Regions from separate parts of the Homo sapiens genome. Here region 1 is linked to region 2. The links come from fine-mapping of genetic effects on gene expression. Tissue or cell type: whole blood. Region 2 holds a variant in brackets; the other region holds the start of a gene. All regions are shown on one strand. Distances are between the middles of the regions.

What was found. PIP is the estimated chance that this variant, and not a neighbour inherited with it, causes the effect.
Region 1: MICAL1 starts here. The variant in region 2 is fine-mapped to the expression of MICAL1 in whole blood (TOPMed, PIP above 0.99).

Annotation. Positions count from the first base shown.
Region 1 is chr6:109,451,893-109,459,892 of GRCh38, reverse strand. MICAL1 (microtubule associated monooxygenase, calponin and LIM domain containing 1) reads left to right here and starts at 4,121. Exons shown (of 25, transcript NM_022765.4): 1 at 4,121-4,174; 2 at 5,654-5,954; 3 at 6,048-6,255; 4 at 6,526-6,630; 5 at 7,278-7,382; 6 at 7,492-7,647. The coding sequence starts at 5,697. RefSeq lists enhancers at 700-749, 4,609-5,117, 5,200-5,249, 5,480-5,529 and silencers at 3,500-4,349, 4,710-5,049.
Region 2 is chr6:109,067,853-109,076,203 of GRCh38, reverse strand. All of the region lies in intron 1 of SESN1 (sestrin 1), which reads left to right. Among named protein-coding and RNA genes, the nearest start is that of SESN1, 23 kb to the left of the region's middle. The variant T/C (reference allele first, on the strand shown) is at 4,376.

The DNA of each region.
Region 1 (8,000 bases), 380 kb before region 2:
AACTGAAGCTTCCTTAGACTAAATCAGAGTTAAAAACAAAACTACATTTTAAAAATCCACCTGTCAAGATAATTTTAGTTTGGTTAATTAAGTGGCTTCTGGATAAATGTTTCTTATAATCTTAGTGTTTGAAGGGCAAAGGCAGTCTTATTACAAAAATATGGGCAAGTATTTAACTGATCCTGAACCTATTTATGTGTTTAATCTTTGCAGCCTCTCAAGGTAGAGTCCTTGTGTTATCTCAGAATCTATGAAATCATAATTGTGCTTTGACTTCTGGGGAAGGTATTGAGTAAAAAGCAGCATACAGAGGAATAAGGTGGGAAGGAAAAATAGGAAAGAATGGGGGCCCCAAGTTTGTGATTTACCCACTCCAAGCCAAGAGACAAAGCTGGGTGTCATTCTTGAAGGGGCCCACCTGACCCCCACACCCAATTCATGGCCATGTTATGTCAGTTTCACCTTGAAATATCTTTTGACTCCATCCACTTCTCCCATCCTCACTATACCATGTCACTTGCCTGTACTCCTGACAAAGACCTGATTGATCCTTTCTACCACCTCCTGCTGGGCTTTCTCCACTGGAAGTGGTGATCTGTTTGGGCTCACCATTGTACCCTTAGCTTAGCATCAAACAGAGTGCCTTGCTGAATGAATGGATTTGCATTAGTTATTAAGATAAATATGACCGTGTCTCTGCTCTGCTTAAAATCCTTCTACAGAGTTTCCATTGGCCTTTAGAATAAAATCTCCAACTTCCTCTTGGGACCCTCTTCCCCATTCTCATTTCGTCACGTGGTTCCTTGGTGTTCCCCAAACATACCCAGCTCTTTCCTGCCTGAAGGCTTTGTGGCAGGTGGTTTCTCAGCCTTGAAAGTTGTCTGCCCCCACTCTGATTCATGAGTACTCATCTGTCCTCTAACCTCAATCAAACCATGTTGTCACATCCTCTCATGGCACTCTCTACACCTTTGGCGCAGATGTCACTTTTTAAATCATGGGCTCTGTCTCTGGCTATACTGCAGCCACAGCTTCCCGGCCCAGGACCATGGGTTTGTTGCTTGAAGATACTGGCCTGCAGGTACAAAGCCATATTACAGGTGACTTAAACATGCCACCTACAGTACTAGGGACCCAGTTTCTGGGCCCAGGAGATAAGAAATTGGGAGGTGACAGAACATGGTATGGGGCAGAGGAAGGAGGATCCTGTCGTAATGGCTCAGGTTTTAACCTAGGCTACTGCTAGGTTTTACCGTTTGCAAAAACATTAGAATGGGACTCCTTTTTTTCTTTTTTTGGACGGAGTTTCACCCTCGTTGCCCAGGCTGGAGTGCAATGGAACGATCTCAGCTTACCGCAACCTCCACCTCCCGAGTTCAAGCGATTCTCCTGCCTCAGCCTTCCTGAGTAGCTGGGATTACAGGCATGTGCCACCATGCCTGGCTAATTTTGTATTTTTCATAGAGTTGGGGTTTCTCCATGTTGCTCAGGCTGGTCTCGAACTCCCGACCTCAGGTGATCTGCCCGCCTCAGCCTCCCAAAGTGCTGGGATTACAGGCATGAGCCACTGTGCCCAGCCTTAGAATGGGACTCTTTAAACTGACTTCATGTGTCACCCACTTATTTGATCCAATATGAATTGGCCAATGTGATTGTGCCAGTATTTTTAGTTCTACATACACATAATTTGAATCATGACTCAAGATTCTAATTAAGGAGAGAAATTCTTGTGGTTAATAAATAGCTTTAATAGAGTTTTTTTTTTTTTTCTTGGAAGAAATTCTAAGTAGAACTTGGTTTGGGTCTTCTAGTCTGTTCATTTCTTAGGACAGCATTGAATGATAGGATTTTGGAGTAGAAATGGGCTGAGAAGGCTGAGTAATTAAACTGCCTCCATTTAGAGATGGGCAGACGAAGTGTGGTTGGTGACATCCAAGGTCACACTAGGCTAGCGTGAAGCAAAGCTGGAATCCAACCAGACCTTCTGGATTCCAGAACAATGTATTCCCTGCTGCTTTATGCCCCCATGTTAAGTATTTAATTAGCATAAGTTGAAACTTCAAGTCAGCAGTTTTTAGCACTGATGAACTCATTATTGTTCTCTGATCTTCTTTAAAGACAAATTTTATGATGTGTCATTCATAGAGCCACATGACCCTGCTTGGCAAAAGGCATTGAGTCAAGCCAGACCCCACTAAGCCTTTGCAAAGTGGAGCGGCTAGTTGTAGCCGCTGTAGTTGTAGTAAGTGGAGCGGCTAGTTGTGTACCATCTGCTAGTGAAAGGGAAATGAGATTATTCTAGAAGCCAGGGACTGTCTCGGGATCTCTTATGGTCTCTGGATCTCTTATGGTCTCTGGATCTCAAGGACAGCAACCCTCCTCTTTATTCCTCGGTTTTATTAGTGTTTCCAGCGTGACAGTTCACTTCCTCTAAACAAGACATAGCTTCGTATAATGCCAGCCTTTCACGCATCATTTTGAATCAACCCTGGGGTGGTGGAGCCCAGGGTAACCCAGCTGTAGTGGACTTTAGAACGTTTTTACACCATGTATTTAAATATGGGTGTGTCTGATATTCGGCAAATTCATTTCAAGCCAAATGACGTGTCACACTCAAAAGCTAGGATGGGCCCAACTGAGAGGCTGCCCTAGTTTTCTGAGCGTGACCTGGCTGAATTCCCTCGCCTCTCCTGGCAGAGAACAGGCATTTCCCCTTGCTTTCGTCCCACTGCCTGCTTCTCAGCTCGAGCTGGGAACAGTGAGTGTTCAGGTCTTACTGGGTCTCAGATATTTTCCAGATGAAATGCAAAATGAGAATAAAGGGAGAGGCCCTATTCCCTCCCAGCTCTTTATGGTCTCTGGATCTCAAGGACAGCAACCCTCTTATTTATACCTGGGTTTTATTAGTGCTTCCAGTGTAACAGTATCACTTCGTCTAAACAAGAAACAGCATCTTATAATGCCAGCCTTTCATGCGTCATTTTGGGTCAACCCTGGGGTGGTGGAGCCGACAGACCTGGGCCCCCAAACAGCTCTGCCACTTGCTGTGTGCAGATCACAGAACATCTGTGACTCAGTTTCCTTTTTGGTAAAATGGGACTGTTGCAAGCACTGATGTTGAGGTAATACTCATAGGATGACGGTCAATAAATGAGACGATGTTTTTTAATATTAACTAGCTAAAAGACTGGACGCGTCCCTTCACTTTAGGCGCTGTTCCTTATCGGGAATACGACGAAGCTGATCCCAAAGGCCTCTCCAGCCCTTTTCAGCAGACAGTCCCGTGGGTCCTCACTCTAAGGCATTCTTTGAAGACTTGGTCTCTCTTCCACACACCCCTCCCATTCCCCATCTCTTAGTGGTGGTCTAACCCGCCCCGCCATCCCCTTCCCTCTCACTTCTCATATCCATTTGGAAGCTGCAGATTGCTGAGTTTCCAGGACTTTAATCCGCGCCCTTTGCCCTCGGCCCGGGCTTAGGGGTCGACCTCTGTCACAGGAGGCGCACTCTGCGCTTGGATCCATCCTGGGGCGCCCGGGCCGTGGATCTCCAGGTGGGAGACCGGAGGAGAGCGCAGACGTTCCGGCGCCACCCTCGGACCCGCCGGCTTTTCCAAACCTCTTGAGGAGCCTGAGCGCCCTCTCGGCCCGGCGCTGGGAGGCTGCCAGCGGACCTGGGACCGCGGCGGGGGCGGGTGGTCCTCGCCTTGCGGCGGGGAAAGAGCTAGCCTTGCACGCGCAAGCACCGGCAAGGAGCCCAGGCCGAGGGTGCGCGGTCCAGCACTGGGCGCCCTGACCCTCGAGCTCCTCAGCCCCCAACAGGCCAGACCCACCCAGAGGCCCCAGAGCGGAACGGGGTGTCCGCAGCGCCACGCCCTCGGGCGCCACCCTGCAGGCATGGGCGGGCCCAAGACTGTCCCCGCTGGAGGCGGTAGAGGGATCCAGAAGTAATGAGATGCTAATGAGTCGCGAATAAAGCCCGGGCGGCGCCCCGCGCCCCTCGCGGAAGCCCACACTCCGCGCGACTCCAGGCGCACGCCCCGGGCCGCCCCGCATCCCAGCATCCCCGCCCGATCTCGGCGTTTCCGCCCCCGCCCCCGCCCCCGCCCTCCCACCCGCTCAGACCTGGTTGCCAGCCCAACAGGAAGCGGCCCCTCCCGGCTTCGGAGCCGCCGGTAAGTCGTCCAGCGGAGCCGGCTGCGAGCCCCGCGGCCGGGTGGGGTGAGGTGGGGTGCGCTTCCGGGGAAACGCAGCTGCGGTCGCTCGGGAACCACGCCTGGCAGGTCAGGCAGGTCTTCCCTCAGCCCAGCCCTGCTCACGCCGCGTCCGGACTTTGCCGTCCAGTGTCGGGGACCCCCACCGCTGCCGCCCGCGGTCCAGCTCCCTCTCCATCCTTTCAGACCGCTCCACCCCTCTCACAGCCTTTGTCCTGGCGTTTCCAGGCTGGGTCGCTCCTTTCTCCCCTTTCGCCGAGGTCTTCCTCCTTCCACCCTCCACCCCCAAGAAAGATCTTTGCCCTTCCGTCATGAGATTCCGTCTGCCCTCGTCCGGGCCACCCGCAGCGGGAGGCTTTCATCTCCTGTCTCGGCGCGGCGGGCTGGGAACGGAGGGGCAGCTGGATGGTGGAGGGGCCTGAGCCTCAGGGACCTGCCCCCACTGCTGCCATTCACCCTCCCTAACGCTGCCGTGGACACCCGCCTCCTCCATACCCTCTGATACCTTCTGGGCCCCGCGTGAGAAACCCCCTCGGGCACCCTTCAGGTGGCGTGGGAGGGGGCGACAAAGCGAGGCTTTGTCTCCGGAGATTCCTGGGAGAGCGCGCCCGGGCGCACAGGGGGCGGGGCGGGGTAGGGGTCGATCAGGGAGGGGGGAACCTGGGAGGGGCGCACCCGGCTGCGGTCGACCCCCAGCCCTACCCACGGCCCCCTGGAGTAGGGCACATTCACAGAGGAAGTGTTTTGACCACAGTGCGTCAGAAATAGACCCAGGCCTCCGTTCCCCAGTCAGTCGCAACATCCTCCCGCCGTTTGTTGAGGCAGTTTGGTGGAGGGAAGTGGAACCTACGCGGACAGAGGCTGTTTCTCTGTCAGGAGGCAAGCACGAGTGCTGAGGAAAACTTTGCCCTTGCCATGAGACACTTCTCAGACACAGCGTGGCACTGAGGCCATCAAGGGGCGCCGGCACAGGGACGCTTGGAGGGAGATGGGGCAGGATGTATGCTCAGCAGCTGGGGTTGTGGGTATCAGATCTGTCCCTGTGTTGCATGCAAAGGCAGCTCTGTCCTCTCCACATCTAAGAAATCCCCGCACACCCTGATTCCAAGGCCTAAGGAAGGCAGGCTAAGAATTCCTACCCCAGGGCTTGGAGATCCCTGGACAGGGAGGCTGAACTGGAGGCTCCCCTGGTGTCCCATGTGCCCTCTGTGCCCAAGACTAATGTTTTTCACTTCCAAATTTGGCAAATTTCACTTGGAGTGGACTGGATAGCAGCTGTCTCTGGAGCAGATGCTGGCAGGGGAATGGGCTGGGAGGAGCAGAGCCAATCACTGGTGAATCCCGAGCTCCCTGGGGACACCAGCCTGCTCTCTTCGCCTCCCCTTCCTTTTTATTTCTTCTGTTCTCCAGCCTCTTCCCCTTCTTTTTCCACCTCTCCAGCCACTCATCTCTGCCCAGCTGCTGCCCTCCCCAGGAGGCCTCCATGGCTTCACCTACCTCCACCAACCCAGCGCATGCCCACTTTGAGAGCTTCCTGCAGGCCCAGCTGTGCCAGGACGTGCTGAGCAGCTTCCAGGAGCTGTGTGGGGCCCTGGGGCTGGAACCCGGTGGGGGGCTGCCCCAGTACCACAAGATCAAGGACCAGCTCAACTACTGGAGCGCCAAGTCACTGTGGACCAAGCTGGACAAGCGAGCAGGCCAGCCTGTCTACCAGCAGGGCCGGGCCTGCACCAGCACCAAGGTGGATACACGGTGCCTGGGATGGGGTGTGGAGCATGCGGGGAGTCAGAGGACGGACAGGATGCCATGCCCTCACTGCCCTGTGTGTTCACAGTGCCTGGTGGTGGGTGCTGGACCTTGCGGGCTGCGGGTCGCTGTGGAGCTGGCGCTGCTGGGGGCCCGAGTGGTGCTGGTGGAAAAGCGCACCAAGTTCTCTCGCCACAACGTGCTCCACCTCTGGCCCTTCACCATCCACGACCTGCGGGCACTCGGTGCTAAGAAGTTCTACGGGCGCTTCTGCACCGGCACCCTGGACCACATCAGTGAGCACCACGTGGTGGCCTGGAGGGGCGGGTGAGCTTGGGCCTAGAGGCAGGCCAGTGGGGAAATGCTGGGACAGCCAAATGTCGAAGTGGACAAGATCCGTATCAGCCAGGTGACCTTGAAGATTCAGGTCCCCCATCTATAAGTGGGCTTTTGGGCTGAGTGATTGCTAAGGCCTTTTCCAGTCTGACCCTGACCAGGCACACACTGGTACATGGGGAGCTTGTGCTGCCCTAGGGTCCCTGTTCCTAATGTCCTCTCCCTTCCAGGCATCAGGCAGCTCCAGCTGCTTCTGCTGAAGGTAGCATTGCTGCTGGGGGTGGAAATTCACTGGGGTGTCACTTTCACTGGCCTCCAGCCCCCTCCTAGGAAGGGTAAGTATTTCTATGCTCCCTGGAATCTCCCCCTCCCCCATCAAGAACTTGGCCAGTGTCTGAAAAAGGATGGGCCAGGAGTGTCCTTTTCTGTTTTTGTTTTGAGACAGAGTCTCGTTCTGTCACCCAGGCTGGAGTGCAGTGGCATGATCTCGGCTCACTGCAACCTCTGCCACCCAGTTTCAAGTGATTCTCCTGCCTCAGCCTCCTGAGGAGCTGGGATTACAGGCATGTGCCACCATGCCCAGCTAATTTTTGTATTTTTTTAAGTAGAGACGGGGTTTCACTGTGTTGGCCAGGCTGGTCTCGAACTACTGACCTCAAGTGATCCACCCACCTCGGTCTCCCAAAGTGCTGGGATTACAGGCGTGACCCACCATGCCAGCCAGGAGTCTCCTTTTCTAATAGTGTGGCCTTGGGCAAGCCACTCTGAGCCTCAGATTGAGCATTTGCAAAACAAGAATAACACTTCCTTCCTCACCTGCCTTCCATAGCTGCTGTGAAGGTGTAATCTGATAGATAATATATCATTGCTTTCTAAACCAGAGAGTCCTTTACACGTTTTGATGATTTCACTGGTTTGTCCTGAGAGTATAGGGGCTCTTACGACTTCTACACCTTTGTGCCTCTCATACCCCCTGCCCTAGGGAGTGGCTGGCGTGCCCAGCTCCAACCCAACCCCCCTGCCCAGCTGGCCAACTATGAATTTGACGTCCTTATCTCGGCTGCAGGAGGTAAATTCGTCCCTGAAGGTGAGTGATCACTTCCCTCAAAGAAGCCAGCATCTCTGGCACATCCTGGGCCTTTCTAGATTGTTATAACCCCCTCCTCCTGCCATTGTTCACCTACCGCCACCTCTAGGCTTCAAAGTTCGAGAAATGCGAGGCAAACTGGCCATTGGCATCACAGCCAACTTTGTGAATGGACGCACCGTGGAGGAGACACAGGTGCCGGAGATCAGTGGTGTAGCCAGGATCTACAACCAGAGCTTCTTCCAGAGCCTTCTCAAAGCCACAGGTCAGGGACCCTCTTGCTGAATTTCCCCTCCCCCTGCCTGACTGTGGCCTGGCTCCTGCCTCTCCCTTCCAAACTTGTCCTCACTGCAAGGAACTCCACACTTTTCTGTTTTTTTGGTCTCAGCAGCAAAGGAGAAGGAACCTGTCCCCTCAGGGATTAAGCAAGCACAGCCCTAGTTGATCACCCAGCATGAAAAGTCCTGGAATCTCTCAGAGATGAACCTGTGTATGGGAGTTTTGCTTAAGTGGTACTTCAAGAAGGTGCCTCTGTTTACTTTGGTTTTGCACTGCCATGCGACCAGGTGGTGCAGGTCTCCCAAATGCCACCCCCCTCCAAGCTTCCCTCTTTGCTCT
Region 2 (8,351 bases):
ATTGAAGCTGCAAACCACAGTACAATTAGTGATACATAATAAAGATGGATGATTTATCTTAGAAACCACACATGCACTTAGATTCCAATCTGGTCTGGTCACTGAAGCATGGAACTAGGAAGTTTGCTCAAACATCATATTATTTATTTCAGATGTTGGGGAAAGTGCAGAAGCCCTTGGATGACAGAGAGAGACTATGCAGTGAACTGGAGAGGACCTAATTTGTGAAAGTGTCAGTCATGCCAAAGGGAGGAGCAGGGTCCAGGCTTAGGTGGTTACTGCAGAGGCTTCCACAAGCCGAGGAAAAAGACCCTCAGAGTCATTCCCTCTGGGGTCGGGGAGGGGGTGTTGAGGAGCTTTTATTTTTTTAACAACTGAATTAGTTTTTTATAGCCTCATTACAAATTTGGTAGTTTAAAACAACACACAACTATTATTTCACAATTTCTGTGAATTAGGAATCTGCTTACACCTTAGCTGGGATCCCTGTTTCAGGGTCTCCTATAAAGCTGCAATTACAGTATCTGCCAGGGCCATGGTCTCATCTGAAGGCTCAAATTGGGAAGAGTTTTCATCCAAGTTCATTCAGATGATGTAAGATTCAGTTCCTTGCAGGCTAATGGATTGAGGGCCTCAAGTTCTTAGTTATGTTAGCTGGAGGCCACCCTCAGTTCTTTGCCACATGGGCCTTTCCATTTGCTTCTTCAAAGGAAACGTGAGGAGCTGGAGAGAGTATTAGCCTGAGAAAGAGTGCCAGCAAGACAGAAATCACAGTCTTTTATAGCCTAATCTTGGAAAAAACATCCCATAACTTTTACCTTAATCACTTCATTAGAAACCAGCCAACTAGGTTTAGTCCATACTCAAAAGGAACAGATTACAGAAAAGAGTGAATACCAGGAGGATCATTAGGAACCATTTTAAAAGCCATTGGGAACCATTACCCTAACAACCTATCTCCTGAAGCTAGGAGTTAGGAAAAGAGTCCTTCCTGCATACTATGAAGAGAGCTGTGATTTAGGGTATATGCTTAGAAACCTGATTAATGTCAGAATAGAGTGTGCTTCAGCTAGTGATAGTATGAGTCCAGTCTCGACTTCTTCCTACCTTTGCAACCATTCTCCAGATAAAGGAGCCTCACACCAGCCTGAACAATAGATGCTCTACCCCAGTGCCTGCCCCCTCACTAGGTGGGGCTCACCATGCCTCAGTGGGAGAGGCCTGCCTGGCTCTAGCAGCTTCTTCATCTTCCTCGTTCTTCCTTTCCTCCATGACTCTTGTCAACCATTATTCCTATGCAACTTTAGGAAATGTTTTACTTCCCATTCTTGGTACTAAAAGCAAAACAGCATTTGTCCAAAAGGTAGGAAATGGCAGTCAGCTTTCTTTTCATCATTTGATACTTCTCTAGTGAGCTGTGAGTCAAATCTCTTCTGTGTCTATGATTTGAGGGGAAAGAGAATTAAAAGCAAATCCCAAAACTTTAATGAGCATTGTCAAATGAATAAGGAGTGAGATTAAATATTAAGCAAACCCAAATTTTATTCAGATCACCCAAAGTCAAGTTGGTGTACTTTACTATCAATTTTGTGTTATTTATAAGGAACAGATGAAATAATTTTGTCTTTTTTCACTTTATAAACCATAATTCTTATGTATTTTGGCTATTGTAGAGCTACCCACAAATGATTACATAATTTATAGCAATTTATTTTAAAAATTTAACCCACTGAATACAATGTTGAGATGAGAGCTTTTCAATGACAGAGAAAGCTCTTGATTTTAGTAGAGAAACAAATTATCAATATTTATAATTTTCTCATTTCATTTTTAGCATCTTGGCCAAATGTTTTATTAAAATTAAACTATTTTTAATGTATATTTTAAATCTAGAAGGTATATACATATATACACACATATATACAGTTATGTGTTGCTTAATGACAGATATATTCTGAGAAATGCATTGTTAGGCAATTACATAATTGTGCAAACATCATAGAATGTACTTACACAAACATAGATGGTATAGCCTACTACATATCTAGGCTATTGCTCTTAGGCTACAAACCTCGATAGCACATTACTGTAATGAATAGGCAATTGTAACACAATGGTATTTGTGTTATCTAAACATAGAAAAGGCACAGTAAAAATGTTGCATGATAATTTTATGGGATGACCATAGTATATATGGTCCATTGTTGACCAAAATGTTATTATGTGACACGTGACTGTATGTCCCAATACTAATAGCGGTTATCTCTCTTGGCAGTGGTTTATGCTTTTCTTAATTTTTCCAAGATTTCTATAATGAGTTAATCTATTATAATGAGACCAAACACATGTCATTAAAAAGAAAATAAGTCAAAACACCACTTTCTATTCATAGAAGAGTGGCTTTTAAGGTAAGTAGAACTTCAGTAAACTGTACTCTCTGAAATGTCTCTTCTAATATGGTATATACCAACTTTTAAAGCTGAGATTTTTATTTAGAAATAACTTTCTTTCAAACACCTTGGCTGTTAATGAAGAATATTTTTTCCTAATGAGTTTTGCATTTGTGGGTTTTTTCCCCTTTGTGTTTACACTGAATAAAAATTTACTCCTAATTCTCAGCTTTTAGCTTTTATGAGCGCTAGATGGCACTCTTGCTCAACCAAAATCTAGTTTGTTGCCCATATTTTGGTGCTGTGGGTCTTAGGAGAAGACGGGTTTGCAATGTCACAACACTTATGTTTTTAAAGGGGGGTTGGGGAAAAGAGACCAAAGTTTCCAAGTTTAAATAGCCGAGCTTAACTGATTTAGTGTTTCCATCTATTGAGAAAATAACCATATAATAACAACGATAACAGTCATTCATTTCACAAATATTTTTTGAGCACCTACCATCTTTAGTACTGTTCTAGGTACTCATATGCACTAAAGGGAAAAATAGATAAAAATCACTACCCTCGTAGAGCTTACATTCAAATGCTTGGATTTTTTTTTGCAGGTGCCACTTTAAACTCTGTACATGCATTCACCCATTTAATAGGAGGCTGAGACACAAAGAGGTTATCTAATTTGCCCCTGTTCACCTAGCTAGTGCAGATGGCAGAGCAAGGATTCAAACTCAGACATTTGGTCTCCAGAGTTTATTTTGTTAATTTCAATACTATACTGCCTCTTGAAACTAAAAAAACAAACAAAAAAACACTTTATTTTTTATTCTATTGAATGCAAATAATAAAAATTTACCTATTTATAATTTTTTCTAAATCTGCTTAATTCAAATATCTTTGCCATTTTATTAAAAAAAAAATTGACTAGATAAAATGTCTGTATTTTTTGGTGATTCCGTAGTCAACTATCGTGTTGCCTTAGCTCTCTTTCAAGTCACAAACACAGCTGGCCTTAAGTATTTATTTAAGCATCTTTATATTCCTGTTTACTTTAAACTCCTTGAATTAGCCATGCAATAATTTGGGTATGTTGTATTAAGAGCTCTACCACATTATGGTTCAGTCATTGTATAATTAAACATGAGGCATCAAGAATCAAAAGTTACTGTTTTACTTGCCTGCTCTCTCCATTGTGTCATTTTACATTTTAGTAGTACTGTGTTTTGTTTATTAAAAAAAGTAAAATCAACAATATACTATGAAGCTGAAAAATGATACAGAAGCCTAAATCATTTCTTAGTCTAGAGATGCATTTCATGGTTTTTAGAGGGCAGAAGGAACAAATTTACCTTTCTCTAAAAACATGCGACTTGGGGAAATTATATGTGACTTAGGGAAATTATGCTTGTGTTTCTCAAGGACTGGAGTTATATTCAACAACATACTTGTTGTAAACTACTGACTATAGAAGGGAAATCACCCACTATACAATAAAAATATTTATGGCTAATTCACACATAGATAACCTATCATTGAAACTTGCCTTTCAGGAAGCTGAAATAATTAATTCTTAACAGCTAGCTAGGTCCTTTTTCTTTTTTGCTGCAGAACTGTGTTAGAGGATAAAGCTGTATTTTTGAAATGCTAATAATTAAGAGTTAACTGTGTTTTAATTAAATTAAGTAATTAGTAAAAGAGGATCACTCCCTTCACCAGGGAGAAGAAAGTTTTCAGAGCAGAGATTTATTTTGGAAGATGCTACAATGTAAGCATTCTCAAATTGAGGATTATTGCTATTTTAGGTGTCTGAACCCCTTAAGCTGCATGCAAAACTGTGTACTCACTTGCATTTTTCTTGGGAGAGAGCCCGTGTTTTATCAGATTTTCAAAGAGATTGTGATCTTAAAAGATTAAGAACCATTGCTAAAACGAGAGTGACCTGCTGCATGTTAAACTTATTTTCCTTAAACTTTAGAGAAAAATTGAAGTGA[T/C]TGAAACTGGGGAGTTTTAAACCAACAAAGGGAAATTTTTGTTGACTAAATGTTAGCTCGTGCCTCTGAGTCTGCTGAGTGAGTACAAGACACATTCTTGCAGTGTGTCTGGTGAATATTTGTACTTGAGTTTCTTATGATGCTGGTCTTAAACTGGCAGGCCCTCACCTGGCAGTTTACAGGTTAAAAGTTTAAGTCTGGCTTCCAGAATATGAAAACACAGGGAGCTCAGCTGAGCACAGCAGAGTTGCAGCCCTCATGTAACATGAACAGGAAATACATATTAACACAGAAATTGATCCTAGACTGCCGGGGTCCATATCCCGATTCTGCCTGTCTAACCTCGAGGAAGTTACTTACCATCTCTGAGCTTCAGTTTATCATCAGCAAAATGAAGATAAAAGGACCTTCATCTCTTTAAGGTACTTAGCATTGTGCCTGTCTTAGAACTTAGTATGGTAAAAAAAAAAAAAAAGAAACAAAAACTATCTTTGTATATGCCTTAGTTATCTAAAATAGCACCTCTTCTTACCCTCTAGATCCTTATCTTGATTTATTTTTCTTCTTTGCCCCAAACACGACCTGAACTCGTTATTTACTTATATATTTATTCTGTCTGCCCTAGTAGGTTATAAGCTCCAGGAAGACTGAGACTTTTTCTTGTTCATTGCTGGACCCTCTAGACCAATGCTATCACATACATTGTCCAACAAATGTTTGTTGAATGAATGAATAATGTTAGCTATTATTATTACTTGGCAGTTTCTACCCACCCTCTCTCCCATCTGTGTGGACTGACTGTAGCTTTTTCTCTTTAAATGAGATGGGTAAACCAGGAGGAAAACGTCCTTCCCTACCTGGGTAGCTGAAGTCATAGCTTCAAAAGGAATATTAATTTCTTATACGCTCTTACTACTCAAGGTGTAGCCTATGGGTCAGCAGCATCAGTATCACTTAGGGAAGATATTGGAAATGCAGAATCTCAAGCCTCACCCCAGTTCTACTGGATCAGACTTGAATCCCCAAATGGTTCTAATGAATGTTATAGTTTGAAAAATGCTATGTTGACCACTTTAAGAATTTTGGATTTTATCTTAACAGTAATAGAGAACCACTAAAATCCTTTAGGTTGGAGATTACATTTTCAGATTTTTGATTTAAAGTGATTAACTTGTATTAGAAACAGTAGTTGTCTTTGGAAAAAGTAGCCATTGGCTGGGGACAGGAATGAGTCCAAGGCTTTTCACTGTATACGTTTTCATAAGCCCATTTCAACTGGTGGGCCCTGGCGGTGGCCTGTCTATGCTGTTCTCCCACCCCAATCCCACCCACCCCTACACTATGAAGGATAGACACCCTGCCCTCACATCAGCTGCTGCACACCCCACATACAGCTGCTGCCTGTCCACTTTCTGAGCCTAAGGTTGCGTACATGGGCCTTGTGTTCAGCCATAGGGAGGACAACCCATGTGTAGGCCCAGAGAGCTGGCTCAGCCCATTTGAGTAGAGATTCCTACGGTTCCAAGTACCTGAAGCATAATCTGGGTGGGCACATGCCCTAGTCCTGTGGACTTCATCTCTCAGAGGGGTGCAGCTGGAGGAGGTCCACAGCAGGCCCTCTAAAGTGTAGGGGCCCCACTCTCTGGGTCTCAGAGACTTAATGCTCTTTTGCACTTCCTACATTCAAATCACGTGAAAGTATTTTGTTCAATGTGAATCTGTTACCTACATTTAAAAAAATAAAATGGAACATTAAAATAAAATGATGGTTCTTGTGTGGGGCATGGATAGGTACAACAAAGGAGGCATGAAGACCAGTTAAAGGGCTGTTGCATTGTTTCAGCAGTAGGTGATGTAATGCTTGGATTAGCGTGATAATAAGATGTGGTTTCATCACATTTTTTAAGTAATTCATTGCTATGTTTTTTAAGTTTCATAAGCTCAGTATTAATTTTCTTAAGAGTTTGTGGAGGCTGGGTGCAGTGGCTCACAACTATAATCCCAGCACTTTAGAAGGCTGAGGCAGGAGGATTTCTTGAGGCCAGGAGTTTGAGACCAGCCTGGGAAACATAGTGAGACCCCCCCTCCCACCATCTCAACAAAAAAATAAAAAGTAAAAATTAGCTATGTGTCGTGGTACACGGCTGTGGTCCTGGCTACTTGGGATGCTGAGGTGGGAGGATCACTTGAACCCAGGAGTCCCAGGTAACAGTGAGCTATGATTGTATCACTGCCCTCCAGTCTGGGTGGCAGAGCAAGACCCAGTCTTAAAAAAAAAAAATTAAAGTTTGTGGGAATTAAGTTTTCTGGCCCATGAATATTTGAAGATGTTTTTACTTTTACCTCAGATTTTGTTACAGTTGATTTGAATATTAGGTTAAAATCATTTTCTCTCATAACTGTGAAGGCATTATTCCATTATTTTCTAGCATCTGGTGTTTATAATGAGAAGTCTTATGCCAGTCTCATTCTTATTCTTTTAGCATGGAACTTGGTGTTTTTTTTTGTTTGTTTGTTTTATTTTACCCCTCTCTAGGAGGCTTGTTTTTCTTTTTTCCGCAACTTTTTTTTTAAACCTATCAAATAGTTCAAAAAATAGTATGGAAAATGCCATATACCCTTCACCTAGAGTCACGTATTGTTAACATTTTGCCACGATGGCCTTCTCTGTTTTTTTCTCTCCTTTTGCTCAACCTCTTGAAAGTTACAAACACTTCACCCCAAAATACTTTATCATGTTTTTCCTAAGAAGAAGGACATTCTGGGAACTTAAGATGCTTTCATTTATCTTTAGAGTTTGAAATTTCGGCTGGGCGCGGTGGCTCACACCTGTAATCCCAGCACTTTGGGAGGCCGAGGCAGGTGGATCACCTGAGGTCAGGAGTTCCAGACCAGCCTGGCCAACATGATGAAACCCCATCTCTACTAAAAATACAAAAAATTAGCTAGGCATGGTGGTAGGTGCCTGTAATCCCAGCTACTTGGGAGGCAGAGGCAGGAGAATTGCTTGAACCCAGGAGACGGAGGTTGCAGTGAGCCAGGATCGTACCACTGCACTTCAGCCTGGGCAATAAGAGTGAAGCTCTGCCTCAAAAAAAAAAAAAAAAGCCCAGGAAATTTCACTGGTGTATGTCAGAATATGTTTCTCCCCACTATGCTTGGGTCTTTTCAATATAAAGATTGAATCTCAAATTACTCTTCTATCCTCTCTTTTGTTACTTCTCCTCTATTATATCTCTTATGTCTGTCCTTTTTTGACCAATAGTTAAGTGTTAGACCTTCATCTTAACCTTTTTTCATATACCGTTTCTTTTTTGTCTTTTTACTTTATATCTTGGAGAGTTCCCTGAACTTATCTTCCAAATTACAAATTTGCCCTTCAGCCCAGTTCTATTATTCAGTTCTTCTATTGACATGTTTATTTAGCAGCCATGTTTTTAACTTTCAATAACTCTTTTGTATTCTCAGATTGTTACTTTCTCTGAGCAGCCAGTTCTTATATTATGAGTATTTTATTCTCTGATGATATCAATTAAATTTTTAATTAGTTTCTTTTTCTCCCTGCTGAATCAGCCAGGATCCTAGCAGAAAATGGATGGCACACTCAGCTGGGGTGACTAAAGAGAAAAAGGACTGTCTACAAAGGTGTATGCAGGGTTAAGAGAAACCAAGAAGGGATGATGGGCATTTTGAACTAGTGACATCTGGAAGTCACTGTCCCCCCCAAACTTCAGGGGCAAAGGTTGAGTGTAGTTACTGGAACTCAGTGAGGTCTGCAGCTATAAGAGAAGCCTGCCTGCCTAACAGGAACTGTGGCCTTCAATAGAGGAATATACCCACTTCTGCCTTCAGAATAAATACCCTGACCTTCTTCTCCCTGTCCTCCAATTTGTTAGTGCCTCTCTATCATAAACCAAACAGTAAGAGTACCGTAATGATACAGTCCATAGTGGTGAGCATTTTGAAGCACAAAACA